Linked DNA regions of Homo sapiens. The protein of the gene in region 2 purifies or fractionates together with the protein of the main gene of each other region. This does not show direct contact. Each region holds a gene or a part of one and is shown on either strand. Other genes may lie near its edges.

The links.
Region 1: the proteins of RABL3 (region 2) and GPR89A purify together in Homo sapiens (affinity purification with mass spectrometry, with the first as the bait; 2 studies listed by BioGRID). This does not show direct contact.
Region 3: the proteins of RABL3 (region 2) and SIRT5 purify together in Homo sapiens (affinity purification with mass spectrometry; 2 studies listed by BioGRID and IntAct, with this or other methods). This does not show direct contact.

The regions. Positions count from the first base shown.
Region 1 is NC_000001.11:145,610,935-145,618,048, forward strand, and holds part of GPR89A (Golgi pH regulator A), read left to right. Parts: intron 1-1,267; exon of another isoform or gene 1,268-1,313; intron 1,314-5,299; coding exon 5,300-5,359; intron 5,360-7,114. UniProt on the Homo sapiens protein: Voltage-gated channel that enables the transfer of anions such as iodide, chloride, bromide and fluoride which may function in counter-ion conductance and participates in Golgi acidification.
Region 2 is NC_000003.12:120,697,439-120,704,552, reverse strand, and holds part of RABL3 (rab-like protein 3), read left to right. Parts: intron 1-5,979; coding exon 5,980-6,130; intron 6,131-7,114. UniProt on the Homo sapiens protein: Required for KRAS signaling regulation and modulation of cell proliferation. Regulator of KRAS prenylation, and probably prenylation of other small GTPases. Required for lymphocyte development and function. Not required for myeloid cell development.
Region 3 is NC_000006.12:13,577,561-13,584,674, reverse strand, and holds part of SIRT5 (NAD-dependent protein deacylase sirtuin-5, mitochondrial), read right to left. Parts: intron 5,904-7,114; exon of another isoform or gene 5,842-5,903; intron 5,225-5,841; 5' UTR 5,066-5,224; intron 600-5,065; 5' UTR 565-599; coding exon 450-564; intron 1-449. UniProt on the Homo sapiens protein: NAD-dependent lysine demalonylase, desuccinylase and deglutarylase that specifically removes malonyl, succinyl and glutaryl groups on target proteins.

The DNA.
Region 1 (7,114 bases), on a different chromosome or scaffold from region 2:
ACCGTCATAAGACTTATCAGTTCCAGAGTACACTCTTAAGTCCTAAGGTCAAGACTCTGTACAATTCTGAAAGTATCAAGTCTCATTTTTAATAAGAAGCTATACGCCTTCCATTTTATTTGCAAAGCTATTTGAAATTGCATTTTGCTTCTGCTTTCTTTTTGGATCCTCTATAATCTTGCCAGAATTTGTGTTTACTTGGATGTAAATGAATTCTCCAGCTACTTGTGTGTGTGTGTGTGTGTGTAGTTTAAGTCTTTTTTTTTTTTTCAACTTTTATTTTATTTTAGATTTGGTACTTGTGCCGGGTATATTGTGGGAGCTCAGGTTTGGGGTACAAATGATCCGGTCACCCAGGTACTGAGCATAGTACTCAATAATTAGTTTTTCAACCCTTCCCCCTTCTCCCCTCCCCTGCCCCCAAGTAGTCTCCAGTTTCTGTTTTTGCCATCTTTATGTTGGTGAGTACCCAATATTTAGCTCCCACTTAGAAGTGAGAACATGTGGTATTTGGTTTTCTGTTCTTGCATTAATTTGCTTAGGATGATGGCCTCTAGCTGCATCTATGTTGCTGCAAAGGACATAATTTTGTTCTGAAAGTCTTTTTAAGCTTTTCTTTTTCAATGTGAAAGGAGGCCACAATGAAATATTAAAGGTATATATCTGTTTCTCTTTTCTTCCATTCCCCTCCCCACCATATAAACTTAAAATTTTTGCTTGTTTTCTCTTCCATTTCATAGCAATCTTGGTGATTTTTTTTTTAATCATCCATTTCCACTATACATACCACCCTCAGTCCTAACTGCCCAACTTCTCTGTCTTCAGTCGTGGCTTCATAAGTCATATAAATATGGTCTCTAAACTCTGAATTTACATCTGTCTCCACCGGTAAATATTTATAATAGCCAAAGGATATCCTGGACATTTTCTCCTAATCTGTTTGACCCTTTCCTTTTCTGCTTGATCTAGATGCTTGGATCCAACTTACTTTCTTACACCCTCTTGTTCGTTTACCTTCATGTATATATAAGTCCACACTTGGATCACTGCTATAGTTTGTTTACTACTAATACAGAGGCCTGAAGGCTACTATAGAAAATCACATAGCTGTGTAGTTTGCCAACGCCAGGAGTTTAACCCTCAGCTCACTGAATTATTCCTTTTCTTGACCTTAATCAGCTACTTGTTTCATTCCCCTCAAAGTTTCTCCGAATCTTTGTCACTCTCCTCAAAGCTCCTTTTTCTAACTCACCTCTCTTACTCTTAGCAGATAACCTTGCCTCGTACTTACTCAACAAAAGTGAAGCCAAAAGGTATGATCTCCTACTATGAATACTTTCTGCATTTTAATCTAAAAGGTTATCTGTGTTCACAACCATTCTTACCTCCTTTCCTCCCATTTCAGAAAACGGGGTTCCCCTACTCCGGTTTAAAGCCATTCTACCTACCTTTGATCTTAGAGTAGCGTATTTTGAAGTGGTTAAAAGCACAGATTTTCTAAACAGACAGACTCAATAAGAGCTGAAAAAATAATATTTAAAAAAAAGCACAGATTTTGGAGTCAAACAAGCTTGAGTTCAATCTTGATTCTGACACTTACTATAAATTGATTAACTTCTCTAAACCTCATCTTTCTCCGTGAAAATAGGATAATCAAACCACTGTACTGAGTTTTTAATTATTTTTATAAGATTATAATGCTAAGTACTACTTAGAGAGCCTGTAGTATAGTAAATGCTCAATAAAAGTTACCTAATCATATTAATAATAGTATTATCAGTTTATCCTCTAGTATTCCACCATCCTTCTCATCTTTTTCTCCTTACTTGACTGCTTTCTTTCCCCTTGGCCAATAAACTTTCCCTTTATTCCACATTCTTCTCTAGCCTATTATCTAATGTTTTCTTTTTTTCTCATTCCTGGCTCTCCCTAGAGTAATTTGCATTTACTGTCCCCACTGCTTTAGCTCCCATTCATTCTGACCTGCTACACTCTGGTTCCTGCCTCTACCTCACTATTCAAAATTGTTTTCCTTATCCTCTAGTGTTTTCTTCTTGGCACATTGCTCTCCTTACTCTAGATACTATTCCCAGGTGATCTCATGTACTTTGGTGGTTTCAACTCATAGGTATATCTTAGACCTGCCTTCACAATCTGTCTTTTATTCCAGATACTTGCTGGATATCTTGATCCATCTTGCTGGCTGTCCCTCAGGCCCTTAGTGTGTTCAAAAATGAGCTCATCATTTTCCCCATCCTCTGCCCCCTTTCCTAAACCTCTTCTTTCTCCAGTATTCTTTATATAAATTGGGTAGCTTCACTCTTCATCCTGTATTCCAAACTAGTCATCCTTGACTTCTCCCTGTTGATTTTACCTTCTAAATAGTTCTCAAATCTGTTTTCTCCTCTTCTGTCACCAAATGTCTTAATTCAGGGCTTTATCATCTTTCATCTGAATTCCCATAACACATTTCTATAATGTTTCTCTTTCTACACTGTTGTTTCCTTCAAGTGTGTCTTCCATACAGCCACCATACCGCTCTATATAATATAAAACAAATCAGACCATGCCATTTCCCTGCTTAAATAACCCTCATCACCTACAGACTATAATCTAAGCTCCTTAGGGTGGCCTTCAAAGCTCTCAGTGATTGGACATCCACTCCTCCTGTCTAGCCTCATTTTTAACCTCTTCCTTCTTTGAATTTCATCTTCTAGCAGCACCAAACCATGTGTAGTTCCCGGCATATACCATGCTATTCACTCTGCGCCTTTACTCATGCCCTTTGCTATCTGGAAAGCCCTGTCCTCCTACCCCTACCACCTGTTTTTACCCTACCTGATTCGTTTTTTGTTTGTTTGTTTTGTTTTGAGACAGGGTTTCGCTCTGTCACCCAGGCTGGAATGCAGTGACATGCTCACAGCTCACTATAACGTCTACCTGCCAGGCTCAAGTGGCCCTTCCACTTCAGCCTCCCCATAAGCTGGAACTACAGGCACGCACCACCATACCTAGCTAATTTTTGTATTTTTTGTAGAGATGGGGTTTCACCACGTTGCCCAAGCTGGTCTCGAACTCCTGGGCTCAAGCGATCTACCCAAAGTGCTGGGATTACAGACGTGAGCCACCATGTCCAGCCTCCCTACTTGATTCTTATTCATCCTTTGAGAGGATGGTTTTTATGTTAGGGGTGGTGGAAACCTTTGACTGTGTGATGAATACCTTGAAACCACTCTAGAAAAATGCACATAACCCCAAAATGTGCATACAATATCAGGTTTTAACCCCAAATTAAAACTTCCTTCGGCTCGGGCATTATCTTCTCCAGAAAATCTGTCCTAACCCCTTACAGATTGGTTTGGTCTCCCTCTTTCATATTGTTTTACAATATCATGTATGTATTTCTATCATTGCACATCCATATTATGTTATAATTATTTATGTACTGTCTTCACTATATTGTGAGCTCCTAGAGGGTAGTAACCATCCTATTCATCTTTGTATCCTCAGCACTTAGCATAGCACGTAGGAGTTATTACAGAAAATTTAAGATTGAATGCTGAAGAATAAACCATCTTTTATGTAGACCACTTAGCCATTCAGCAAGCACTTATGGAGAGCCTGCTACGTACCAGGCTTTGTGCTGGATGCCAAGGATACAAAGATTACAAGACAAACATGGTTTTTGTCCTCATAGAGCTTATAATCTAATGTCAAAAAATATTTAAATCACACATTACAAAACTGTATGGTAAGCACTTTGATGAGGGAAGTACAATGTAAAACAGGATTATATAAAAAGCAATTTATCTGCATTTGGGAGGGCAGAGAGGGCCTTCCAGGGGGAGTAAATAGCATAACTGGGAGAGGGCTAGAGAGAAGTTCCTTTCAGAGGACATCTACACAGGTCTCGATGTGAAAGAATATGGATCTAAAGAACCAAAGAAGTTCCAGGGGGCTGAACACATGAGTTTGCTAGGCAGCAGGGGCATGATAAGAAGCTAAAGTAGTCTGTGCTAAACTACTGAGTTTACACTTGCTCAGTAAAGTAGTCCCTAGAAAGACATAAAATCATTTTATTCATAAAGGTCCTAGCCAGTTTAAGAAGAAAAGAGTAGTTGTGTCAGTGTGTATGTATAGAAAGTTCTGTTTACTACAGACCAGCTTTATCAGCTGTCATGTGGCTACGGTCTCTGCCAGTTTGAAACAAAACTGACGAAAGAGGGATCCTGCAATCTCTCGGCTTTACATTGAGATGAAAACCACTTTTATGTAGATTAGGCAGGATGGTGGAGAAGCTAAGAAAACTCTCTGAAGGAAACAGATATAAAAAATATTAGGCTTTCTACTACTCCTCTAATTTTGGTCTCAACTCCTCTCCCCTGAAGTTTTTATTTTTTAAATTAATTTATTTTTATTTATTTTTTGAGACAGGGTCTCACTCTGTTGCCCAGGCTGGAGCGCAGTGGTGCAATCATGGCTCACTGCAGCCTCAACTTCCTAGGCTCAGGTGATCTTCCCACCTCAGCCTCCCAGGTGGCTGGGACTACAGGCACACCCCACCACCCCCAGCTAATTTTTATGTGTGTGTGTTTTTTGTAGAGACGGGTTTTCACCATGTTGGCCAGGCTGGTATTATTTTTAAATACTTGCAATCAGGGATCATCCATAAGAAGCAAGTCTCACTCTGACACCTTTTCTTTTTTTTCGAGACCTAGTCTCACTCTATCACCCAGGCTGGAATGCAGTGGCACGATATTGGCTCTCTGCAACCTCTGCCTCCCAGATTCAAGCGATTCTCATGCCTCAGCCTTTGGAGTAGCTGGGAATACAGGTGCCCACACCCAGCTAATTTTTGTATTTTCAGTAGAGACGGAGCTTTGCCATGTTGGCCAGACTGGTCTTGAACTCCTGGCTTCAGGTGATCTGCCCACCTTGTCCTCCCAAAGTGCTGGGATTACAAGTGTGAGGCACCGTGCCTGGCCACTGACTCCTTTTCTATTTGCAAACTTCTCTGGCTCATATAATGATTATCATAAGATTATGGCAAAATATGTACTTCCATTTTTGTCTTAAAGCATACTCTGTAACATGGATAACTTCAAAACTCCAAGGGCATTTAAAAATTTATTTCCAATGTCATGAGCTTTAATAATAGGTCTTATAAGAGTGGATCTTATCTTTAATCCCTGAAATAAGTTAACCGTCTAGTTAGCAGACCTTTTATCATAAAAGAGTTTCTATAAAACATTTCTCAAAAGAAAATATGTATTGACATTCTATTTTCTTTCTCCTCCAGATACTATTTTTTGGATTTGGGTGGCTTTTCTTCATGCGCCAATTGTTTAAAGACTATGAGGTGAGAAGAAATCATTTTGTCATACTTACACTATATGATTTAGATTGACAAGAAAAATGTCTCCATTAAAGAAACATTATGTTCATTTCCAAGATAGGAAGCTTTTACCAAATAAGTACTATATAACTATTAGATTGCAGAATATAAGTAGACTTAATTGATTTAAAAGGGGGGAAAAAAGGCAAATCAAATATAGCCCAGAAGTTAGGAGCAAGGATTATGTCTTAGTCATATCAGGATATGTACCAATAGCAAATAGTTATTCTGTAGGAGAGAATTTAATTCATAATGTCTCACAAATGTTCCCTTTCATTTGTCTATCTGGCCCTGAATTGCAAACCTTATATTATAAGTTAATACCAAAATCCCAAGGCTATCAGGGGAACCAGTCCCCAATATTTCAACATAGGTTCTTTCTGTTTTCCTTAAGTGTCGGCCGGTCTGAGAAATAAAGAGAAAGAGTACAAAGAGAGAAATTTTACAGCTGGGCCTCCAGGAGTGCCATCACATATTGGTAGGACCGTGATGGTGACTCCGAGCCACAAAACCAGCAAGTTTTTATTAGGGATTTCAAAAGGGGAGGGAGTGTACGAATAGGGAGTGGGTCACAGAGATCACATGCTGCAAAGGGCAGTAAAATCACAAAGCAGAGGCAAAAATTAGAATTACTGATGAGGGTCTGTGTCCCACTGTGCACACATTGTCTTTATAAACATTTTAACAGGAAATAGGGTTCAAGAGCAGACAACCAGTCTGACTAGAATTTACCAGGCTGGAATTTCCCAATCCTAGTAAGTCTGAGGGCACTGTAGGAGACCAGGGTGTATTTTAGTCCTATCTCAACCGCATAAGACAGACACTCCCAGAGCGGCCATTCATAGACCTCTCTCCCAGAATGCATTCCTTCCCCAGGGTTATTCCTTGCTGGAAAAAGAATTCAGCAGTATTTCTCCTACTCGCTTTCTGCAAGAAGAAGAGTATGACTCTATTCTGCCCAACCCCGCAAGCAGTCAGACCTTATGGTTATCTTTCCGTGTTCCCTGAAAATTGCTGTTATTCTGTTCTTTTTCAGGGTGCACTAATTTCATATTGTTCAAACACACATGTTTTTCAAACAATTTGTACAGTTAACGCAATCATCACAGGGTACTGAGGTGACATACATCCTCAGTTTACAAAGATGACGGGATTAAGAGATTAAAGTAAGACAGTCATAAGAAATTTAAAAAGTATTAATTTGGGGAACTAATAAATGTCCATGAAATCTTCACAATTTATGTTCAGAGATTGCAGTAAAGACAGGTGTAAGAAATTATAAAAGTATTAATTTTGGGAACTAATAAATGTCCATGAAACAATTTATGTTCTTCTGCTGCGGCTTCAGCCAGTCCCTCCATTCGGGGTCCCTGACTTCCCGCAACACAAGGCTGGTGTTGTTTTTATCTTAAGCTTTGGATTCAGAAGATCACCACCCTAGACTCGACATTTCCTAGTTAGTTCTCCTAATTAGTAATAAGATCAGTGGTTATAGTCTACATTTGGGTCATTTCTAGGATATTCTCCATTAAACTTTCCCAGGGAGTTTATTGTCTGAAAGAGCCTGGGATTCTGGAGATTTTCTTCTGCCCAATACTTTAAGACCTCCCGAGGAAGGTTCCAGAACTGATCCAGGATCTGCAGAGTGTTGAAGAACCCCTTTAAACATTAACCATTATGTACGAATCTGTCAGTTTTTTGTCAGTATGCATCAGGAAT
Region 2 (7,114 bases):
AAGGGTACTAACTAGGAGTGATAAGAGTGAATATCTATGTCTTACTCCAATCTTAGGGGGAAAGCATTCATTTCACTATTAAGTATGATGTCAGCTTTAGGTTTTTTTTGTTGACATCATTTATCAGGTTGAGAACATTTCTTTCTATCCCTAATTTGCTGATAGTTTTGTTAATATCATGAACAGATACTGAATTCTGTCAAAAGCCTTTTCTGCATCAATTGATATGGACATGTGGCTGCTTCTTTAGGCTGTCAGTATGGTGGATTACGTTCACTGATTTTCAATACTGGTGGATTACATTCACTGATTTTCAAATATTGAACCAGCCTTCCATTCCTTGGTCATGGTGTATTATTCATTTTATGTGTTGCTGGATTTGATTTGCTAATATTTTGTTGAGGATTTTTATCCATGTTCATGACAGGCATTGGTGTGTAGTTTTCTGTTCTCATAATGTCTTTGACTGGTTTTGGTGTGAGGATAATGTTGGCCTCATAGAATTAATTGGAAGTATTCCTTCCTCTTCTATTTTTTGGAAGAAATTGAGTATATTTGGTGTTATTTCTTCTTTGAAGGTTTGGTAGAATTTACCAAGAGACCATCTGGGCCTGGAGGTTTCTTATTTGAAAGGTTTTTAACCACAAAGTCAACTTCTTTAGTAATTAGGATTGTTCAAGTTATTTATTTCATCTTGGATGAGTTTTTGTAATTTGTGATTTTCAAGGAATTCCATCTATTTCATTAAATTTTTTAATGTATATCAATAGAGTTGTTTATAGTATTTGTTTATTGTCCTTTTGATAGTTGCACAGTTTGTAGTGATATGACCTTTTTCATTCTGATTTTGGTATTTTATGTCTTCTCTTTTTCTTGTCAGACTTGTAGAGGTTTATCAATTGTATTGATTTTTTTCCAAAGAAGCAACTTTTGGTTTCATTGATTTTTCTCTATTGTTTTTCCATATACAGTTTAATTGATTTCTACTCTTATTTCTTTCCTTCTGCTTGCTTTTGGTTTATTTTGTTCTCTATAGCTTCTTAGATTACTTACTGGATACCTTGCATTTTTGCCAATACAAGTATTTTAATGCTATAAATTTCCCTCTAAACACTGCTTTAGCTGCATCCTGCAAATGTTTAAATGTATTACTTTTATTTTCATTTAGTTCAAAATATTTTCTAATACTCCTTGAGATTTTCCCATAGGCTGTTTAGAAATGTGTTGTTTAGTTTCCATGTATTTAGAGGCTTTCCAGTTATTTTTTGCTATTGACTTCTAGCTTAATTTTATTATGATCCAAGAACATACTTTATATGATTTCACTTATTTTATATTTGTGCAACACCCGGTATGTGACCTGGGTGTTGTTGTCTCTGTTGTTTCAGTTTTCAGTGTCTTTGGTACACTAAGTAGGATCAAATCCATGCATGCACAGCTTTGGCAATGAGCTCAAGCATTCACGAACTACTTCATGGGGTTGCTTTCTCACACTTCACCCTGTCTACAGTCTCTGCCATACTTTGTGATTTGCTGGGGCTCCCTTTTTCGGTCCCCAGGCCAAATTTTCTCATGCACTTGCACAACTGCACCTATGTCCAGGGCCAAGTGGTAGAAGGACAAAGAATAAAAGCAATGGGAGTTTGCCCCACTGTCTTGAGATACAGTTCCATCAGTCAGAAAAATTTCCCTTCTGGGCCCGGCGCGGTGGCTCACGCCTGTAATCTCAGCACTTTGGGAGGCCAAGGCGGGCGGATCATGAGGTCAGGAGATCGAGACCATCCTGGCTAACATGGTGAAACCCTGTCTCTACTAAAAATACAAAAGATTAGCCAGGCGTTGTGGCGGGCGCCTGTAGTCCCAGCTACTTGGGAGGCTGAGGCAGGAGAATGGCATGAACCTGGGAGACGGAGCTTGCAGTGAGCCGAGATCACGCCACTGCACCCCAGCTTGGGCAACAGAGTGAGACTCCGTCTCAAAAAAAAAAAAAAAGAAAAATTTCCCTTCCTCTGTATTTGTAAGCAGGCGTTCCCAACCCCTGGTCCATGGCCTGTTAGGAACCAGGCCACACAGTGGGAGGTGAGTGGCAGGTGAGTGAGCATTACCATCTGAGCTCCACCTCCTGTCAGATTAGCAGAGGCATTAGATTCTCATAGGAGCGTGAATCCTATTGTGAACTGTGCATGTGAGGGATCTAGGTTGCAGGCTTCTTATGATAATCTAACTAATGCCTGATGATCTGAGGTGGAACAGCTTCATCCTGAAACCATCCCCCAAACACCTGTCCATGGAAAAATTGTCTGCCATGAAACTAGTCTCTGGTACCAAAAAGGTTGGGGACTGTTGTTTTTGAGCATTCTGCTTGTGTTATAGCCTTTGCCACAACTGTCATGAAATTGCTCAGAAGCTGGCTTACAACAGAAGGAAAAATATTGTATTTCTACACTATCTCCAAGTATTCGTGTGTCCCCTTTCTTGTTTCATGAGCCAGAACTATAGGCCTTCTTCTGGAGTATTCTGTTCACACTTTTGGGTTTTAAGCTGAGTTGCATTCAGACAAGGGGATATGGAAGGAAACTGCTAATTCAATGGTTCTTCACATTGCAGTCTTCCTTAATATGCTCACTATTAATTTTTCAGAGTCCTCAAATAGCCACTTCATGTATCCTGTCCAGGTTTTATAGTTGCATTCACTGGGAAAGACAGGATAGAGTTTGCTTATTCTGTCTTACCTAGAACAGAACCCCATTTTCTATCTTTTGATTGAAGCAAGTCTTTCAAAGGCTTTGTTTTCTGTGTGGAAGTCTAATTGTTATGTGAAACCTAAATATAGTATAAGTTTGAGTATATATATGTAGATTCCAGCAAGACCTAATAAAGAATAAGCACAACTAATTTAAAACCTATATTTCAAAGCCTCATTGATATTTATTTCCTATCTCAATTCCTTTCATCACTGATGTCTTCATTAACCTAGCTTGTTCTCTATTTTCTACTAAAATTTCTACTTAAGAAACTTATCCTTAAATTTAGGGTTAGGAGACAGCATATTCATATCAGAAAGAAATCTGCATTTTTGTCAGGGAATTCAGTAAAAGTTCTATACCCATTTGCATTTTGACACTACAGTTTCATTTTGATTCTATAGATAAACCTGCAAATGTATAAAACAACCTTAATACATTGGTGTGCTTTGTTGGTGCATTATTGTATAGCATCAAAAAATTTGGAAACAACCCTAGTGTCCGAGCAACGAAAGATTCATTGAATAAATAATGGCATATCCACATACTGGAGTAGTATTCAATGTTTAAAAAAGAATCAGGAAGATCTCTATGAACTAAAATAGAAAGATCTACAGAGGGTACATTATTAGGTTTAACAAATCAAAATGCAGAGAATATATATCGTATACCTCCTATTGTATAAGAAAGAAAAGAAATAATATGTATTTATATTTGGATAAAGAATCAGTGAAAAATAAGAAACTAATAAAAATGGTAACCTATAGGGGGCCAGGGGAGATGGGTGGATGGGTACAGTGGTAGGAGCAAGACTGCTTAGCATATATCTTTTATATCAGTTTGAGTTTTTAGCCATATTTAAACAATTTAGGTAAATTTTATATTATGTAGTTTTTACCACAATAACTTTTTTTAACTTTTTATTATAGAAAATTTTAAACATATGTAAATACAAAGAATGGAAAATGAACTCCCATATACCCGTTGCCTAGTTTCAACAATTATCAACATATAGCTAGTCTTGTTTCATCCATATCTCTACCCACTTTCTATCTTCTCCCACTCTCAACTGGATTATTTTGAACCAAATGTTAAAACATCATATCATTTCATCCATATATACTTTAAAACATAAGGGCTTTTTTTTAACATGACACCATATAATTATCACAGCTAAAACTTTAATAATAATTCTTTAATAACCAAATATTATTTTAATTTCCCCAATTGTCTCATAAATGTTATAATTGATTTTTTCGAAATAGTATCTAAATAAGGTCCACTGGTTGTATTTGGTTTCTTAAGTATCTTTTAATCTTAGGTTCTCCCTTTTTGGTTGTTTTTTTTCCAACCTCCTAGCACTTTATTTGTAGAAGAAGATGGCTGTTTGTCTTGTACAGTTTCCTATATTCTGGATTTGCTGATTGTCTCCCTGTATTGTCTTTTAAACTTGTTTCTCTGAATTCTAAATCTTCTCTGAAGTGATAATTAAATATAGTGGTCTGAAAGATGCAAGTTTTTTTGTCTTTATTTTTCCACCCAGTATTATGCATATAATATGATACCTGGCTGTGTGTCTCTTTGTGATGTTAAGGAGCTATCAGCCTTATCCATCCATGATAAAGTTCTTCAGAAGTTTACCAAAGAAGATTTCAAGATTAAATTTTAAATTGGATGCTGCAAGATTTTATGAAAAAGTTAAAAGGAAAGCTAAAAAGAGAAATAAGAGAGCAAACTATATATGTATGCTTTATATGTGTCAGTGTGCAAGGAATTGTGCAAGACTATATGAGAGATGTATGTACATCAAAGATGATATTTGATAGAAGATATGCAAAACTTTGTATGTGAGACAGAAGGAAACAGTCCTAAAGGAAAGACACTCTCAAAACTTCATTCCCTAACAAAGCGAATTGTAGCTTTGAACCATGTCTCTTTAATTAGAGTTGCTGTTGATATGAATAATCAAAGGTCTTGATCATGCTATTATTGGCTTTGATGCAATAAATAGAATGGTAATATTTTTGTGAGATGGGAGGTTGTATAGTAAAACACTTGTGTTCCGAGGCTGAACAGTTTGCTGAGGCGCTGTAAGATTATTGTGAAGGGCATAAATACTTAGTAACTTTGCCCCCTACCCCAATTTAGAATTTCTGTAAGAGAAAGAAAAGTAGTGTTAAAGGAAGAAAAAAAGCTATGCTCGACTGGGTTGTAGTGATTGGATTATGCAATATTGATTTACTGTCATAAATTGTGCACAACCAGATTTTGCTGACTGTTGTAAGTTGAGCTTATAACGTGTCAGAAATCCAAATCTGTTTTATTTCTAATATGTGAGTAGAATTTAAATTAATTCAACAGCAATGGCCTCTGTGTTCTTTTCAGTAATGAGAAGTATCATTTACATCACCACTCTGTTCTTTGGATAAATAAATTTTTTAAAAAATAAGGATTGTAATAGCCAGTGATCCAAGGCCACTAACCCTAAGTGGTTCTTATTGCCCGTCCTCTATCTCCCATGGCTCTCATTTCAGGAAACAACTACTTGGTACTAAGTTCTTTCCTTTTACTATTCATTTTGCATTTCAGCTGTTTCCTTCCATTTCCATGTGTTTAATCCACCTTTCCCAGGCTATAGTATCACCTATATTTGATTTATTCTAGGCTTCAGCTTCCCTATTTCTATTTTCTTATTCTTCTTATTTCTTTACTATTCAGACAGAAATGTGTATTGTAGATATAGAATTAATGCATACCCCAAAAGGTACCCAAGAAGCTTGCCATTTTCTCTTCTAGCACAAGGCTTGAGTGCCATGCTAGGCTTTTGGGTTTTTGCTACGATGAGGCTTAAATCCACTCTCTGCTTCTACTCTGAAATATTCCTGAGCTGTTATGTTAACCTTAGAAGACACAGCTACATTGGAAGTTAAGTCCACTGACTGTAATATACTTGATGGGCACTTAGTTGTTCAATTATTCAGTATTGTTCAATATTCAATAAAAACATGGGACCAAATTTTGAGAAGTTAGATGAATAGCTGGAATCTGATGATGAGGATGGATTGATAAAAGAACAAGTAGATGGAAGAAGTTGGAAGGAAAGTAGGTTTGTAGGTGAAGGCAGCAAAAATCAGTTAATTTTCAGTAAAATAGTGTAACTTAGTTGCACTTAAATATTACACATCTACACCAGAAAGATACATTCTATTCACCTCTTCATTATTATTTATCACAGGGATTATGATCAAGAACAGTTTGCTGATAACCAAATACCACTGTTGGTAATAGGGACTAAACTGGACCAGATTCATGAAACAAAGCGCCATGAAGTTTTAACTAGGACTGCTTTCCTGGCTGAGGATTTCAATCCAGAAGAAATTAATTTGGTATGTATTTTCACTAATGCATGCTTGTATTATTATCGGGTAAAGACAAAACTGAAGACATATTCAAATAATATATTCTAGTGAAAGAAGCTTTATACTTGAAATCAGGCTATTTGGATTCTAGTCTAAACGTAGTCAAGATTGGAATCAACATATCTAGACTGAGAGATGTGCACAGTCACTTCAGCCTTTTATGTTGGTCTGTTGGAATGTTCCAACTTTATTCTATGAATAATTTAAATCATAGGCTTCTTTTTTTGAAACAGAGTCTCGCTCTGTCGCCCAGACTGGAGTGCAGTGGCGCGTTCTCAGCTCACTGCAGCCTCTACCTCCTGGGTTCAAGCGATTCTCATGCTTAGGCCACCTGAGTAGCTGGGATTACAGGCATGTACCACCATGTCCAGCTAATTTTTTAAATATTTTTAGTAGAGATGGGGTTTTGCCATGTTGCCCAGGCTAGTCTTGAACTCTTGACTGGATTTGCCCTCCTTGGCCTCCCAAAGTGCTGGGATTACAGGCGCGAGCCACTGCACCTGGCCCATGGGCTTTTTCTTGAGAAAGGTTTTTAAAATCACACCAAAATTAAAATAAATTGATTAAAGTGGCACTATAAGCATATTATTCTTGCTTTTAAAAAGCCTCTTAGCTTCTTAAACTACAAATTTTACCTTAAAGGGCAACGTAACAAATACATGAAAAAATTGCAAACCTTAAACTAGGAGTGCTTCATAAGGACTAATTTATGTACACTTATGCATATATAGAGGATTGAGTCCCTTGATGAGATAACTAGCTCAATGAGAACTGAGCGCGTAAAAAAGCTAAGAAATGGTTGTCATGTAAGCCTGTTAGGATCCCAGAAAAAGATCCTGGCCAGCAATTTCAGTCATGGTCATGTTGTTCACAAATAGGATTTCTGCAACTGTGCACTGGCATTCCAGAAATGCAGTGGTGGTGGTGTAATAGTACTAGTGAGCAACATTT
Region 3 (7,114 bases), on a different chromosome or scaffold from region 2:
AGGGATTACCTAAAAGAGAAGAGGACAGGTGGGCGCGGTGGCTCATGCCTGTAATCCCAGCACTTTGGGAGGCTGAGGCAGGCAAATTACGAGATCAAGAGATCGAGACCATCCTGGCCAACATGGCGAAACCCCATCTCTATTAAAAATACAAAAATTAGCTGGTTGTGGTGGCATGTGCCTGCAGTCCCAGCTCCTCGGGAGGCTGAGGCAAGAGAACTGCTTGAACCCAGGAGGCGGAGGTTGCGGTGAGCCGAGGTCGCACCACCGCACTCCAGCCTGGCGACAGAGCAAGACTCCGTCTCAAAAAAAAAAAGAGAAGATGACAGAGTGGCTTTCTCCAAAACCTTGCCCAATACCTAATTTGACAGAGACATTCCTCTCGAAGTGTAGGACTTTCAGGTACTTCACATTTGGCTGCAGGTGAGGCAATGGGTAAAATGACTTACTTGAACTTGGCCGAGCCATTTTCAGGCAAATCTGGTTTCGTGTGGACGCTGGAGGCTTCAGGCCACAATATAGCTGGGAAATCAATCGACTTGGGACAATCTGGAGAGGTCGCATCAGGGTTTGTCTGTAGTTCTAATGCTTGAGGCGGGCTTTAGAAAAATCACAAAAACAAATAGTGTAGAAACAATCAGCAAATATTTTTATATATGGAAATATGTATAAATATTTATATTTTATATATTACAGAAACGCATCATGTATATTATATTATACCCACACGCACACATACACGAATGTCCTTTAAAAAATCTTTAGTAACAGATCATCCTCTGAACTGGCTGTTTTCCGTTTGTGTTCTCAAGTGCTCCTAGAGGTGCAGAGGTGCCTTGGAGCAGTGCTTCTCAAAGCGTGTTCCCTAGACCAGCAGCGTCGCCATCACCTGAAATCTTGTTAGAAATGCAGCCTCTGGTTCCACCTCAGAGCTGCTGAATCAGAAACTCTGGGGGTGGACCCCATCATCTATTTCCAGGTGATTCTAGTAACTACTCAAGTTTGAGGACCACTAAAATGCACAAGAAAGGGTTAAATATGAGAATTCATTTGAAAACTTGCTGCTTTTCAAAAGGTATGAAGCCAGGTGCAGTGGCTCACGCCTATAATCCCACCACTTTGGGAGGCCGAGATGGGTGGATCACCTGAGGTCAGGAGTTTGAGACCAGCCTGACCAACATGGTGAAACCCTGTCTCTACTAAATACAAAAAATTAGCTGGGAGTGGTGGTGCATGCCTGTAATCCCAGCTACTCAGGAAACTGAGGCAGGAGAACTACTTGAACCCCGGAGGCAGAGGTTGCAGTGAGCCGAGATTGTACCATTGCACTCCAGCGTGGGCAACAAGAGGAAAACTCCATCTCAAAAAAAAAAAAAAAAAAAAAAGAACAAAGAAGAAAAAAAAGAAGGTATGAAAACCACCACTAGTCTCTCAACTTGCGGTCAAAGTACAGTTTCTTTCTTTTATTTCAGACAGGGTCTCACTCTGTCACCCAGGCTGGAGTGCAGTGGCGTGATCACGGCCCACTACAGCCTTGACTTCCTGGGCTCCAGCGATCCTCCCACCCCATCCTCCCCAGTAGCTGGGACTACAGGCACGCGCCACCATGCCCGGCTAATTTTTGTATTTTTGGTAGAGACAGGGTTTCACCATGTTGGCCAGGCTGGTCTTGATCTCCTGAGCTCAAGCCATCCACCCACCTAGGCCTCCCGAAGTGCTGGGATTACAAGCATGAGCCACCATGCCCAGCCCAAAGTAGTTTCTGTGAGAATGTAATTTCTAACTGAGAACTAAATTCTGAAGGAAAGAAGTGTACTGTGACAATAGTATTAAGATAACATCGTGTCACAGAAACTCGTGGATCTTAAGGCACATTCAGTAAATCTTTGTCTATACCTGAGGAATTTTATAAAAAGAAAACAAACACAGAGAAAGACAACATTTGGAACAATGACACTGATTGTCCAACAAAACTGTGGGGGCAGAAAATATAACGGTGGTTGCCAGAAAGGGGAGGAGTGATTAAAAAGGGGCATGCGGGAATTTTTTTTTTTTTTTTTTTTGGTGGGAGGCAATGGTATTGTTATATATCTCGATTGTGGTAGTAGTTACATGACTGTATCTGTCAAAACTCATAAAACTCAATACTAACAAAGGGTTAATTTTATTAGACACATATTTTACTTAAAAATAATGAGTATAGAGCTTCAGTTTTACAAGATGAAATGAGTTCAGGGGATTAGCTACACAACAATGCGAATAGACTGAACTGTACCCTTAATAATGGTTAGAATGCTAAATTTTGTTACATGTGTTTTACCACAATTGTATTTTGTAAGAGAAAGGCAAGGGGATAAAAGAATATACCTTAACTTTCTTGCATTTGCTATAAAAACAAAAAAAGAATTCACAAGAAATTAGTAAAAAGAATTGAGTATAGGGTGGGAAACGCTATGTAAGGAGATTAGAGCTGAGCAAGGATTTTCCATATGTGTTTATATATTGTTTGGATTATCAATGCCTTCCAGTCCAAGGAACACACTTGTACTCGAGCAAGTTGCGAGAGATAGAACACGCCATGAAGAACTGCAGCATCTGTTAGGAACCTGGAATGGACTGATTAGAGGATTTGTGCTTGTGTTAGATCATGTTGGGGAGAGGTTCATGGAAGTGGGGCTTTGTTCTGGATTTGATGCTGTTAATGGATCTTATCTAAAAGGTGGAAGGAATGAAGAGAGGCTAGAGCTGTGAGTGGCCAAGCAGGAGTCCCTCATGTTAGCGGCATGGGAGGATGTTTGGTCATCTTTGTGGCTTCAACAATGTTCCTGTTTCGGTCCCAGTTCAGACGTGATTACTGAGTGGCCTTGTTCTTGTCCTGACCCATTGTGGTCACAGAGTGGCCCTGTCTGATATCGGTGCTCTGTGACGTGGTTTATGTTCAATAGAACACCAAGGCCTATCAGATAGTGCCAGGCTCAAGACTAGAAGCAAACCAAATGTCCATCAATTTATAAATGGGTAAACAAATTGTGGTTTATCCATACCATGAAGACTCTTCAGCAATAAGAACAAACTACTAATACCTTCAACAGCATGAATGAATCTTTAAAAGTGTTATCCAATAATAACTCTATAGTAGAAAAGCTGGCAGCTACCACCTTAACCAAGTGATCAAAGTTAACATCACCAGTAATAAGACATGGCGACTCCACCTACCTCCTCATATGATGCAATGAGAAGGGCAAAGCATCACTTGTGTGGCATTCATGACTGCAATTTAGTTATGAGAAAATGCCAAACTCAAGCTGAGGGGCGTTCTACACACTCTACAGCAAAACTGGCCAATACTCTTCAGAAAAGTATCAAAGTTTTGAAAGATAAGAACTGGAGAAACTGTCCCAGGTCCTAATGAGACATGACAAGTAAATGCTACGTGGGATCCTGGGCTGGATTCAAGACCTGAAAAGGGACATTAGTAGGACAAATGGCAAAATTTGAATGAAGCCTGTAAATTAGTTACTAGTACTGTATATGTAAATGTCTAGGTGTAGTACTTGTCCTGGTTTAGATCATTGCACTCTAGTTAGGTAAGATGTGAACATTAGAGGAAATTGGGTAAATGGTATAATGAGAACTCTGTGTACTATTTTTGCAACATTTCTGTAAGCCTAAAATTATTTCAAAATAAAATTGCTTCACAACAAGAAAAAAAAGGGCCAGCCATGGTGGCACACACCTGTAATCCCAGGACTTTGGGAGGCTGAGGCAGGAGGATCACTTGAGCCCAGGAGTTCGAGACCAGCCTGGGCAACAAAGTGAGACCCCATCTCTACAAAAAAGTAGCTGGGCATGGCAGTGCATGCCTATGGTCCCAGCTACTCAGGAGGCTGAGGTAGGAGGATCACTTGAGCCCAGAAGGTTGAGGCTGCAGTGAGTCATGATTGTGCCACTGGACTCCCTGCCTGGGTGAGTGAGACCCTGTCAAAGAAAGGAGAGAAGGCCAGAGCAGGAGCGAGAGTGAGGGAGAAAGAGAGAAAGAGAAAAAGAGAGGAAGAAACAGAGGGAGGGAGAGGGAAAGAGAGACAGAGAAGCATTATGCTAAGTGAAAGAAGCCAGATACAAAAGGCTACATAGTTTTTGAGACCATTTATAAGACATTTTAAAAAGGCAAAACTGTTGGTACAGAAATCACACCAGTGGTTTCCAGGGACAGGGGTCGGGGGAGTAAGGGGGAGCAGAGAAATTTTTAGAGCAACGTAAAATTACATTATCTTTATTTTTGTGATTTTTTTCAACACTCATAGAACTGTATAATAAAAAGCGTGAATTTTACAGTGCGTAAGGAGTAATATGATAAACCTCACCTACAAATAAGCAAGCAAGTCAACACGTTTTCAATGTATCCTGTCTCTTCTGCAATCAAAAAGACTGTAGAAGAAGATTGACACTCAAAAAGAGAAGAGGTTAGAGAAACATGGTGTAGTGTCTCCAGAACAACCTCAGGGGACAAGGCTGTCTGGCTGCCTAAAGTTACTTCTGCAGGGAAGGCAGGCAGACTGGCTGCTAGAGGGAAGTGAACAGACTCATGGGCCCCAGCAGCCACTCTGGTGAGCAGCTCCCAGACTCAGTGACAATGGTGACATCCAACCAACATGAATATCACTCCAGTGCTTGATTTAAAGAAAGCTTGAGGAAAATGGATTGCCATGATCTTCAACTAGCATGGGCATGATAAACTTTTGACAAACTTCAATTTACCTGGAAAACTCAGTAAGGAACAAATGAGGTGTTAATATAGTTTGTGGGTTTTTTGTTAAAATCTGGAAAAACTTAAACATATACAAAAATAAACAGTGTAGTATGGGGAACCCTTATATTCTTATCACCCAGCTTCAATAATTAGGGGCATGAAGTTTTAAAAATATCGTTAGAGATGACAATTATTAAACTTGCATGTCATGAAAATTGTGAAGATCAAAACTCTGAATACTGCCTAACAGTAACTAAAAGCTTCTTATATGCTGCATGAAGTTACTTAGGCTATCATCTTGAGCTTAATACATACCTTTAGTTATTTCTCCCAAAATGAAGATGGTTGTCTCCACGGCTGCTTTCTAATATATTTGAATCTGGAGACATCAATATAATACAGACTTCTAATTTGATCCAGAAAATTATTTTCTTCTTCTGTAGGTTTTTATATGTTAGAAAACATTTCCATTTACTGTAAAAGAATTCAAAAAAACTACTGAATAAACTGTCATTTTTTTTTATCAGGCATGAAGGTAGGATTGTAAAAGTCATTAAGAATTTAAAAGAAATTAAGAACAATGTCACCTGGAATTATTCCCAAGATCGTAAATGTTCATAACATAAAACTATTTTCTTAGTCTTTATTTGCGACTACAAAGTATTTTAAGACTAAAAGTCTAAATACAATTTAGTATTTGCTACTAAATAGTCTTTTAAGATACTACTACAAAGTCTTTATTGAAAACATCCTTTGTGCCAACATGTATCTGCTTTTCCAGGGTGTCAGGGCAGGCAGTGGTTCTAGTTTCCACAAGGTTACAACCCTGTTCAAATTTAGAAGCAATGTCAGAAGGGTGACAAGGCACCATTGTGACAGTTAGAGGAAAGAGGACTCAGGGTGAAAGTTACCCTGGGTGAAGACTCCTGCCTTGATTTTATCTTCCAGGTGGGAAAAGAGGCCTTGAGGGAGGAAATAAACTCATTGATCAGTCATTGGGAGCTTTTTGGGTGCTAGGCAGGTTCTTATAAATTGACATTAATCCAAGTAATGTCATTTAACGATGCCTTTTCATGAAATCTGAAACTCACCTAACAGATTTTTTTTAAAAGCCTGTATGTTCTCTGTGAAAAAGGGGGGCACCCTACCAATTCTGAAAGATAGAAGTGAAAGATTATATCAGAAATTTGAGGGAAAAAAATTTACAGAAAACTCAGAACCTGATGGCTTCACTGATGACCTGAATTCTACCAAACATTTAAAGCAGAACTAATACCAATTATTTTCTTTTTTTTTTTTTTTTTTTTTGAGATGGAGTCTCGCTCTGTCCCCCCAGCTGCAGTGCAGTGGCGCCGTCTCCACTTACTGCAAGCTCCACCTCCCGGGTTCATGCCATTCTGCCTCAGCCTCCCGAGTAGCTGGGACTACAAGCAACCGACACCACGCCCGGCTAATTTTTTGTATTTTTAGTAGAGACGGGGTTTCACCGTGTTAGCCAGGATGGTCTCGATCTCCTGACCTCGTGATCCGCCTGCCTCGGCCTCCCAATACCAATTATTTTCAAACTCTTCTAAAAAACTAAAGAGGAGGAAATACTTCTAAACTCATTTTAGGAGGCCAGTATTACCCTGATACCAAAGCCAGAGAAGGACGTTACAAGAAGAAAAACTACAGACCAATATCCCTGATGAACATAGATGCAAAAATTCTTAACAAAATACTAACAAACTGAATTCACTGACACGTTAAAAGGATCATTCATCATGATTGAGATTTATCCCTGGAATGCAAAGATGGCTCAACATACACAAATCAATAAATGAGATATACCATATTAACAAAATGGAGGACAAAAACTGTATGATCACCTCAAAAGATGCAGTAAAACATGTGACAAAATTCAACATCTTTTCATAATAAAAACTCTCAATAAGTATAGAAGTACTGTGACACAGAAAGACCAAATATGACAAACTCACAGCTAAATCATACTCAACGGTAAAAAGTTGAATGCTTTTCCTCTAAGATCAGGAACAAGACAATGATGCTCACTCTCACATTGTCTATTCAGTGTAGTACTAGATGTCCTAGCCAGAGCAATTATGCAAGGAAAGGAAGTAAGTCATCCAAATAGGAAGGGAAGAATTTTTCTATATATGTTTTCTATATATAAGATCTATATATAATATAGATATGTATATAAAATATAGATATATAATATCTATGTATATAAGATATACAGAGAGATCTATAGGGATATATAAATATATATATAATATAGAGAGACATATAAGATATATGAGATTTCTATATATAAGATGTTATCAGCATGATCCCTGTTTGATGATAATATGATTTTATATA